3 linked regions of the Homo sapiens genome follow. The protein of the gene in region 3 interacts with the protein of the main gene of each other region in a pairwise test. Each region holds a gene or a part of one and is shown on either strand. Other genes may lie near its edges.

The links.
Region 1: the proteins of CCDC141 (region 3) and TSC22D2 interact in a two-hybrid assay, tested with the Homo sapiens proteins (one study listed by BioGRID).
Region 2: the proteins of CCDC141 (region 3) and PIAS4 interact in binary tests that used the Homo sapiens proteins (3 or more experiments, as listed by UniProt).

Annotation. Positions count from the first base shown.
Region 1 is NC_000003.12:150,453,174-150,456,827, reverse strand, and holds part of TSC22D2 (TSC22 domain family protein 2), read right to left. Parts: intron 1-3,654. UniProt on the Homo sapiens protein: Reduces the level of nuclear PKM isoform M2 which results in repression of cyclin CCND1 transcription and reduced cell growth.
Region 2 is NC_000019.10:4,024,736-4,028,389, forward strand, and holds part of PIAS4 (E3 SUMO-protein ligase PIAS4), read left to right. Parts: intron 1-3,410; coding exon 3,411-3,452; exon of another isoform or gene 3,453-3,454; coding exon of another isoform or gene 3,455-3,462; intron 3,463-3,654.
Region 3 is NC_000002.12:178,868,530-178,872,183, forward strand, and holds part of CCDC141 (coiled-coil domain-containing protein 141), read right to left. Parts: coding exon 3,604-3,654; intron 3,024-3,603; coding exon 2,898-3,023; intron 777-2,897; coding exon 588-776; intron 1-587. UniProt on the Homo sapiens protein: Plays a critical role in cortical radial and GnRH neurons migration during brain development. Regulates cortical radial migration by negatively controlling the activity of histone deacetylase 6 (HDAC6) and promotes centrosome maturation.

The sequences.
Region 1 (3,654 bases), on a different chromosome or scaffold from region 3:
ACTTTAAAACTAACTCTCAATTGTATTAAGAATTTCTCTGTTCAGTGGTTTTAAAAGGATACATTTTAAATGGGCAGTGTCTTCTCCGTATCTCTTAAATTTCTACATTAACCAACTATACATTCTAATTGCCTTTCATGTAGAAATTCCAATAATTACTTATTGTAGTAAAATTCAGATGATGGCTTGACTTTTTTTTTTCTAGTCCCTCCTCTTAGTAAGACTTTTCTGGTATAAGTTTTATACTTTAACATCTAGTTTTTTAAAAAAAACTTAATGGCTTCTAAAAATGGTTCAGAAAGTCTTTGGGTAGGATTGGTTAACAAGAAACTCAACATTCAGCCGGGCGTGGTGGCTCACGCTTGTAATCCCAGCACTTTGGGAGGCCAAGGAAGGTGGATCACTTGAGGTCAGGAGTTCCAGATCAGCCTGGCCAACGTGGTGAAAACCCATCTCTACTAAAAATACAAAAAAAATTAGCCAGGCTTGGGGCGGGTGCCTGTAATCAGCTACTCAGGAGGCTGAGGCAAGAGAATCACTTGAACCCAGGAGGCAGAGGCTGCAGTGAGCCGAGATCACGCCATTGCAATCCAGCCTGGGCAACAAGAGCAAAACTCCATCTCAAAAAAAAACAAAAAAAAAAAAAACAAAAAGAAACAACATTCTGGCAGACCTACATGTATTTGACTGTAGGTTACTTGCTGGCAAAAATCACCTATAAGGTATGTGTGGTTTAGATCAGTTCTTCTTGGGAATAACTGAAAAGTTATCCAGCCTGTAAGCACATTCCAAGTTCAAATATCACCTTAGCAATTGTATGATAATAACACAGAAGGCTAATTGTCCTCTTTGGTGGTTTATATTCTACCATGTATTAAGTAGTAAGAATAGCTGGAATTTATACCCTTTTATTGTTTTTTAATGAATTTTATTTCTAAAAACAGTTATTAGGTTTTTAAAAATTACTCTTGTAAAGAAAAATCTGATACTGTAGCTTATTGTATCAATACGAAAAGATAATTTTTTATATGTTACTAAATATTCTTCATAAAGTATACTCCACCTAAGATTTTAGTGCTAAAATACCTGGAAACTACTTTACTTTAGATGGTGTGGACCCATAATGTTGTATCAGATTGAGGCTCAGAAATATCCTGTCCTGTGATATCCTGCTATTCACTTCCTATGGGACATCAGCAAATCACCTATTTAACTTCCCTGGATCTGAGTTTCCCCATCTGTAAAACAAGGGGTTGATGTCAATGCCTCAATGGACTTTCCACTTCTAAATCCTTGAAATCTTGAATCATTACATGGGAAACTACGTTTGTTTATTTGAGCATTAACCACATTAATTACAGCATACTACCTTCACTTCTTGCTGCTACTATTTCTAAGATGAAAAGAGGTTTTGTATATCTAATATCTAGAAAGGATTTATGGATCATTAACAAATACTTTATATGTGCTGGGCTTTAAATGCTTTTAGTGAGCTGTGCAAAGTATGACTATATGTAACTATAAACTACAGAACCACTAAGTCAACCATAACGCTTTAGTATATACTTCAGTGCCAGATACCATGCAGACATATTCACCACAAATACTGAACACATTTTGGCAAAAAAGACGGTGACAGGCATTTAAATTAGTTTGCTTGGGAATCCCAGATTATACTTTCTATATTTTTATTGACATGACAAGGAAAGATTGAATTACTTTTAAGTCATGTCATGACTTAAATCATTTGATTCCTTCAACACATTTGGTTTAAATAGCACACCTTAAATACTAACTACAACATCAGTTTTATGTATTAACAAGCAGTAAAAAAAACAAAAATTACTGGGGTTTTTTTTTGATAATTAAAATCAGTCAGCGAGTTTTAGAATGATTCCCATAGCTAAGGAAGAATAGTTAGCATGCTATTCTTTGAATGCTGACCTAACAAACTCTTGTCCTAAGATCTCTTTTATGACAACAGAAGAAACAGGTTTGCAAGGTATAAATAGATCATGATGAAGATGTATCCCTTAAATGGTGTTAATATTTCAACTGTTAGGTGTTGTACTCTAATAGAATAAATCAGTGTCAAATATAATTACTACCACTATAGTGACCTTTAACTATCTTGAAGGCTATTATTCAAGAATTCTATAACCTACTGCAGGGGTCTCAAACTTTAGCATGCACCAGAATCATCTGGAGGTCTTGTTAAAACTCAGGTTGCTGGGCTCCCCCACTCAGAGTTTCTGATTCAGTAGGCATGGAACCAGGAATCTGCATTTCTAACAAGTTCCCAGATGATGTGGAATCTACTGTCTGACTATGCTTTGAGAACTGCTGGCTTACAAATGAAAGTTATAGGAGGAAAAATTAAGAAGCCTAATTCTATTTTTAAAACTTTTTAGCCTGGCATATAAAATTCTTTATGACTTTGACCTCTGCCTTATACAGTCTGTTTTCCTCTTATACTCCATCTGCCTATTGTGTTATGGTCTTATACAACTATTTGTAGTCTGTGGAACATATGTTCTCTCGGGTTTCCTTGGCTTTGCAGAAACTGCTCCCTCAGCTGGAAATGCTCACAGTTCCAATTCATCTGGCTATCTTAGACCTGTCCCTTAAGATGCTCCAGTGCCATCTCTTCTGTGATGCTGTTTGATTTTCTAAGGTAGAGCCAATTACTCCATCCTTTCTGGGGTCTACCAATCTTCGCAAACTTTTTATAGTGCAAAAAGGCAGAATAGCAAATTCTGGCTCCTCCATATACTCACTATATGAATTCTGGGAAATTATTTAACCTTTCTAGACCTCAGTTTTTTCATTTAAAATAAGGATTATATGCCAATTGTGAGGATTAAATGAGTTTACATAATGCATAGTACTTGGCACACTGAGCACTCAATACAGACAGTGATTACTTTGAGTATTGTAATACTACCACTGTTGATCCTATTAGATTGAGCTCTTTGAGAAAGGTTCCATAACTTCTTCATCTTTGTGAATAAGTGAATTCAGTGCTTAGCACATAGTAACTCAATGCATACTGATAGTAATTAGATATGATAGATTTGAAACAATTAATGGTTCATATGAGGAAGGCATTAAAATTTTTTGAGTTCAGATAAATCAGTTCTCAAAGTGTAGTCCCTGAACCAGAATCATCAGCATCACCTGGAAACTTGTCAGAAATGTAAATATTTGGACCCACCAAGACCTTGTTAGAAATGTAAATATTTGGACCCACCCCAGATTTACTCTTGGGGCGGGGCCCCGTAATCTATTTTAACAAACTCTCTAGGCGATTCAGATAGAAACTAAAGTATGAGAACCACTGCTTTAGCCATATTTACGATGGAGATACCAATATGGTAGTCTTAAGCAAATAAGAGACTATTTTATTTCAAGATCCCAGAATATGGTTTAAAAATACTGTTTCAATGAGGGTATCAAGATGTTTTCTATTATGTTCAAAGTTATCATAGTGAGATTTGACTCTTTTAAAATGAGAAAGATCAACTGAAGCAGAATCAATAATTTCCTTCCTTCACCTAATGTTATAATACTATATACCTTGTTTTCTTTTTAATTATTATATTCAGCACATTATATTTTGATGGTTTAACCAGTTTCCAAACTTAAGCTCCCTAA
Region 2 (3,654 bases), on a different chromosome or scaffold from region 3:
CAGGAAGTTAAGTCAGGTGTTTTTTTGTTTTTTTTTTTTGAGACTGAGTGTAGCTCTTGTTATCCAGGCTTCCAGGCTGGAGTGCAGTGGCGCGATTTTGGCTTCCTGCAACCTCCACCTGCTGGATTCAAGCAATTCTCCTGCCTCAGCCTCCCAAGTAGCTGGGATTACAGGCGCTCACTACCACGCCCGGCTAATCTTGTATTTTTAGTAGAGATAGGGTTTTGCCATGTTGATCAGGCTGGTCTCGAATTCCTGACTCAGGTGATTCACCCACCTCAGCCTCCCAGAATGCTGGGATTACAGGCGTGAGCCACTGCGCCTGGCGGAAGTCAGGTTTTTTCCCAGTTATATAATGAATACGGGGTTTCCCCCTCCATACCGTGGATAGTGAGGTGGGATGGTTCCCTCGGTGGGGCCGTCCTGGGCACTGCAGGCTGCTGAGCAGCATCCCTGGCCTCCACCTGCTCTGTGCCAGGAACACCCCTAACTCTGACAACCACAGATGTCCCCAGACACAGCTCGGTGTCGCCTGGGGCAGGGTCGTCCTCAGATGAGGACGGTTGAACTGTGGCAGGTGAGGGGCCAGTGTGGCTGCCCTGCGCTCTGCTCCTCCCTCAGTCTCTCCGAGGCTGTACTGCCTCCAGCTGAGACAGATTCCTGCTGGGCAGGCTAATGGTAGGTGCTGGGCCCTTAGGACAGGGGAGGCCATTTGCCCAGGTCACCCCTGAGTCCATGGCAGGGCTGGGCCGGGCGCCCCCATTTAATGCCTAGCTTCTCGTGCCCAGCCGCTTCAGACCCACCGCCCCCACCTGCTGTGGGGCCAGGTTCCTGGGGCCTCCCAGCCTGGCCCTCACACCTAGTAAGGGTTCAGATCCAGCCGAGCCAGGCTTGGCCATGGAGGCCTCTCTGCCTGGGTGACCCAAGGTGGCGACCTCGTCTTTCTCAGCCTCGTCTTCCTTGTCTATGTACCTGGGTCAGCACAGCCTCCACCTGCACTGGGTCCCTGCTGCAGAGTGCTCAGAGCCAGCCACACAGTATAAAAAAATCAGTTTGGGCTGGGCACGGTGGCTCACAACTGTAATCGCAGCCCTTTGGGAGGCCAAGGCAGGTGGATCACGAGGTCAGAAGATCGAGACCATCTTGGCTAACACAGTGAAACCCCGTCTCTACCAAACATACAAAAAAATTAGCCGGGTGTGGTGACGGGCGCCTGTAGTCCCAGCTACTCGGGAGGCTGAGGCAGGAGAATGGCGTGAACCCGGGAGGCGGAGCTTGCAGTGAGCCGAGATCCTGCCACTGCACTCCAGCCTGGGCAACAAAGGGAGACTCCGTCTCAAAAAAAAAAAAAAAAAAAAGTTTGGTTTTCTCCTCAGAAAGCTTCTGGACATTTCTTTTTCTTTTTCTTTTTTTTTTTTGAAATGAAGTCGCTCTGTCGCCAGGCTGGAGTGCAGTGGCGTGATGTCGGCTCACTGCAACTTCTGCCTCCCAGGTTCAAGCGATTCTCCTGACTCAGCCTCCCGAGTAGCTGGGACTACAGGTGCGCACCACCACGCCTGGCTAATTTTTGTATTTTTAGTAGAGACAGGGTTTCACCATGTTGGCCAAGATGATCTCAATCTCTTGACCTCGTGATCCACCCCACATCTGCCTCCCAAAGTGCTGGGATTACAGGCGTGAGCCACCCTGCCCATCCCACATTTCTTTTTCTTATGTCGAGATATGATTTGCATACCATAGAATATACAGTTTTTAAGGGTGTCATCGAGTGGGTTCTCGTGGATCAGTAGGTATCGCAGCTCCCACCACTGCCTAGTCTCAGGGCAGTCATGTCCATCCCCAGCAGCTGCCACCCTTCATCCACTGGCCCCCACGCATCCCCTCCTGTCTGTAAATGGGTCTGTCCTGGACATTTCATAGAAGTGGAATCACATACTATGTGGCTTTCGTTTATTATTATTATTTAAGACAGAATCTCACTCTGTCGCCCAGGCTGGAGTGCAGTGTCGCGATCTCAGTTCACTGCAATCTCCGCCTCCCAGGTTCAAGTGATTCTCTTGCCCCAGACTTCTGACTAGCTAGGATTACAGGCGTGCACCACCACACTCAGCTAATATTTGTATTTTTTTTGAGACAGAGTCACACTCCGAGGCCCAGGCTGGAGTGCAGTGGCACGATCTTGGCTCACTGCAAGCTCTGCCTCCTGGGTTCACGCCATTCTCCTGCCTCAGCCTCCCAAGTAGCTGGGACTACAGGCACCCGCCACCACGCCTGGCTGATTTTTTTTTTTGTATTTTTAGTAGAGACGGGGTTTCACCATGATAGCCAGGAGGGTCTCGATCTCCTGACCTTGTTATCCGCCCGCCTCGGCCTCCCAAAGTGCTGGGATTACAGGCGTGAGCCACTGCACCTGGCCTAATTTTTGTATTTTTAGTAGAGACGAGGTTTCACCATATTGCCCAGGCTTGTCTCGAACTCCTGACCTCAAGTGACCCACCCACCTCCGCCTCCCAAAGTGCCAGGGTTACTGGCGTGAGCCACCTGCCTTGTGTGTCCTTTCGTGTCTGGCGTCTCTCACTGGGTGGGACATCCTCACGGTGCACCTGTGCTGAGGCCTGGGTCTGAGCCTGGCTCCTTTCCATGGCTGGGTCGCGTCCCGTGCGTGTTGGTCCTTCGGTCTACGGAAGGACACTCAGGATGCTGCTAGTTTGTGGCTGTTGTGGTCAGTTCTGCTGTGAACATCCACGGATGCGTCTTTGGGTAGATAGACTTTTTCCTCTTCTTCTGGGGGCGTTTCTTGTTAAAGTTTATCCTCAGGTGTTACTGGTTTTTGTTTTTTTTTTTTTGGAGAGTGTTTCTCTTTGTTACCCAGGCTGGAGTGCAGTGGTGCAATCATAGCTTGCAGCCTGTGCCTCCATGGGTTCAGACGATCCCCCTGCCTCAGCCTCCAAGCAGCTGGGACCACAGGTGTGCACCACCACGCCTGGGTAATTTTTTGTGGAGACAGTTTCACCATGTTGCGCAGGCTCGTCTCAAATTCCTGGGCTCAAGAGCTCCGCCAGCCTTGACCTCCCAAACTGGGTGTTTTCTTGCCATTGTGAGCCAGCTGCTAGATTCCCGCATGCACGTTTTAGCTATGTTTCTTCGCAGGGAGAGGCACCTGGCTGCCCTCTCTGGTTCAGGGTTTTGCTGTGGATTCTGTTGCATTTTCCAGGGAGGCCAGCCCCTCTCCTGACCTCACAGCCACTCCTCTCACCCAGCCCGTACAAAAGAGTCCTGGGCCTCAGTTTCCCAGCTCTGGGGGAGGGAGCCTTGTGGTGTGGCGGTCTCCACCTTGTCGGGTGGGCTGGGGTCACGCCCTCCTCACTCAGCTCTCCTTTCCTTTCCTCTGGTTTGCTCCACACCCACAGGGAACTGCAGCCCGGAGTTAAAGCCGTGCAGGTCGTCCTGAGGTATGCCCAGGTGTGCCCGCGACCCCAGGGCTGGACCCCCAGCCACCCGCCCCTCCCCGCCCCCCAGTCCTGGCCCAGGCCCTTCTCAGTCTCCCCTGCTAACAGCAGAGCCCAGCTCTCCTCACCTGCTGTCTATCCCTGTCTGGGGATACATCACCATCCGACCCCCACTCAGGCCACACCCGGGGGCCCTGATACCCCC
Region 3 (3,654 bases):
AATAGAGACCATAACTATGAAGTTTTTGTAAAAATGCCACCAACAAATAGCACTCCATGATGTCAGGTACTTGAAGTGCAAAAAAAAAAAAAAAAAAAATCTAACTTGGTTTTCGCCCTCAAAGAGCCTAGAATTGAATTGGGGCGGGGGAGAGGGGGTGGGCGGGAAGCTATGCTTATCAAAAAGTAATTAAGAATCAAGATAGTAAAATGCAAGATATGTGGAATACACAATGAGCTGTAGGATTTTTGAAGAGAGAGAAATCATTCCAAGTGAGGTAGGATTGTTGGAAGGAGGTATAGGATTTAGATAAGAGGGAGGAGAAAGACAGACTTGTCAAATAATGGCAGCCTGAGAGTCAAGGGTTGGAGTTAGGGATGTGTGCATCATCTCTGAGGGACAAAGAGCTCAGTTTGGCTGGAACAAAAGGAAGAATAGGAACATAGTGAGAGAAAAGATAGGGGCCAGATTGTGTAAACTTCTGATACTAGAAGACACAATTTGGCCTTTATTTATTATATAATAATTCATTTTTAATTGCATAGTTTAAAACTCAGGATTTTTCAGACATCCCTTCTAAGCCTTACCTCTTCCTTGACTTGATGGAACTGGACCACCTTGTACAGGATATCCTCGTAATCCTGGATTCTCTCTTTCTGTTTTTGATGGAAGTGAATAAGGTCCTTCAGTTGTTGAGACTTTTCTTTTACAGGGGCTCCTCTGCCAGTTAACTCCTCTGATTCTTTCATAATGTACTGAACCTCATCATTCAATTGCTAAAACATTGAAAGCAATAAAAAAATCTTGCTATTAAAGAACTTTTTTACTTTACAACTGACAATATAAAGGTCTAAACAATGAATCACTCTTTCATTTGTTAACAAATACTTATTATGAATGCCCCCACCCTCCAAAATATTTGGGCATTGTGCTGGATGATAGAGATATGTTTTTCTATACTCACCTGAGAAATTTACAAAAAAAAATAGCATGAGCAATGCAACAAAGGTTTCAAAGCTAGGTGGAAAAACAAAGTCATACATTTCTATGGCATACCAAATATTCTATTCATCTGTTAAGTAAATGTATTTTAGATATTTTATGCAGCCCCATGATTATCTCTGATATTTAATACAGACTAGAATCAGGTGGTATGGTAAAAACACCATGAGAAGATGGGTGTAAAAATATATCAGGGGAATAACTTGTGCTCTGTGATAAAAGAATGATCAGAATGAACCACCAGCTGAACAGCATAGTAGATAGACTGCTTCAAAAGCGGTCATCCCATGATCCACAAATAGCCATCACATGTAGGGAGGGATAAACTGCCTTGCCTTTCACCCAGCATTGCTCAGATAATCCAGATTCTGGAATAGAATTTGCAAAAGGGGCATACTTTAAAGAGAATGCTACTATAGGCTGGGCATGGTGGCTCACGCCTGTAATCCCAGCACTTTGGGAGGCCAAGGAGGGTGGACCACCTGAAGGCAGGAGTTCAAGACCAGCCTGGCCAACATGGCAGAACCCTGTCTCTACCAAAAATACAAAAATTAGCTGGGCGTGGTGGCACACACCTGTAATCCCAGCTACCCCAGAGGCTGAGACACGAGAATCACTTGAACCTGGGAGGCGGAGGCTGCAGCAAGATAAAATTGTGCTACTGCACTCCAGCCTGGGCAACAGAGTAAGACTCTGTCTCAAAAAAAAAAAAAAAAAAAAAAAGACAGTGAGAGAAAGATAGAGAATGCTACTATAATTTCAAGTGTAGATCTTTTGTATGAAAGGTAAAAGTAATGGAAATGATTTAGACTAAGGAGATAATTTTCAGAAGAGTGACCTAAAAAGGGTCTTCAAGTTCAAGCATTTGGGCATTAAATATATGTGCATCACAGTGACAGGGCTAAAGAGGTGTGACAATGGTCCTGATTTAGAGGAACTTACACGTACATGCAAACGTGCACACAAACAAAATGCATATAAGCAGATAACGCAGGGTGTATTAAAGAGCCTAATATAGGCCAGTCACATTTGCTGAGAGTTTTATAAGAGTTTGCTGTGGATTACAATGGTGGGTGTGTTTCTGTGTAGCAGGTGCGGTGGTTATACTTACATCGGTTTTTGTCTTAAAGGAACCTACAATTAGATATTCCCTAAAGGAATCTTCAATATTCTGATTCTGGGATTCTTTGAAGCCCACATTTATGAAGCAGTGACAGCTAGAAACACAGGTATCTAAATTTTGCAGCAAAGCATAAGAATCCAGGCAGAAGTATAATGTGACTAGCAGGTGGCAATTTTTGGCGGTTGTGTCACATTTTGGAGAGGCAGGAGGTGGGGAAATAGGGACTGTGTTAAGCAGTCAGGGTCAGGAACATGACTCATGGTTTTATTGCTCATATCCTGAAAGGTGGAGTGGAGGGCACAGCAAAATTCCTGGGGTGATGGTACGTGCCTGGGGTGCTGGTGGGTGAGGACAGTGACATAACAGTGGTCACCTCAGGGACCCAGGGCAGCAGAGCCTCTGGGTCCGAGGTTGCCCATCCTTGTTCTGAGATGTCTCAATTTAAAACACCTCTGCACTCCCAAGGAAAAGAATTAGAGTGAAAATATAGGATAAATATATTACTAGTTTAATTAGCCATGTGAATTTTAAAAATCTAATATAAAAATCTATTTAGGACATTGTATAGCCCTAATGCTGGTATATCATCAAATTCAAAAGAATGCAGGAAAAAAGTAAGAAAAATGTCTCTACAGTGGATTTTTAGACAAGCAATACTTTTGTTTAAAAAAATAGAAATTCACCAGCCTGTTACAATTAATCAGGTAAACTGCAACCAAACAGTTTTAAGTATTTTTTCCATTCACCCAAATCCAGCAATATATTTCTTCACCTGGAACTGAGGCTTCATGTCATTCCATTTTTGTCGTAGATCTAAAATGAACTGGAGGCTCCCTCCGAGGTCAAGTGCAGACACAGGCATAAGTGCTTCCTGAAGAAGTTTTAAGTTGTGAGAAGTCTGAAATAAATATTGGACAGTTACACATGCATTTTCTTTGACATCTCCAGCAAATTTGATCATTCTAGGTATGACGCAGAGTGTGATCAAATTTTTCAAACCCCATGAAAACACTCAGGATGTGGCATGAGCTCAGGGTTCTAAACCACCAAGAAGTAAGGCCCTTGGTTTCTGCTGCCTTTTTTGGTTTTATTGTGGTAAAATACACATAACAAAAGTTACCATGTTTACCATTTTGGGGTGTACAGTTCAGAGGCATGATATTTAATACATTCACATCAATGTGCAATCAACATCACCACCAACCACCTCCAGAACTTGTTTATCATCCCAAACAGAAACTCTGTACCCATTTAACAGCTCCCCATTCCCTCCCTCTCTCTCCCAGTCCCTGGTAACCTACATTCTGCTTTCTGCCTCCATGAGTTTGACTACAGGGACCTCATTTATAAGTGGAATCACACGATATTTATCCTTTTGTGTTTGGCTTATTTCACTTAGCTAGTGTTTTCAAGGTTCGCTCATGTTAGCCTGTGTCGGAATTTCATTCCTTTTCACATCCCATTGTTCCTTGCCTCACCTTTTTAAGTTGCTCTTTGAATGCCGCCCACTGCTGTTTTCCAGGCTTGCT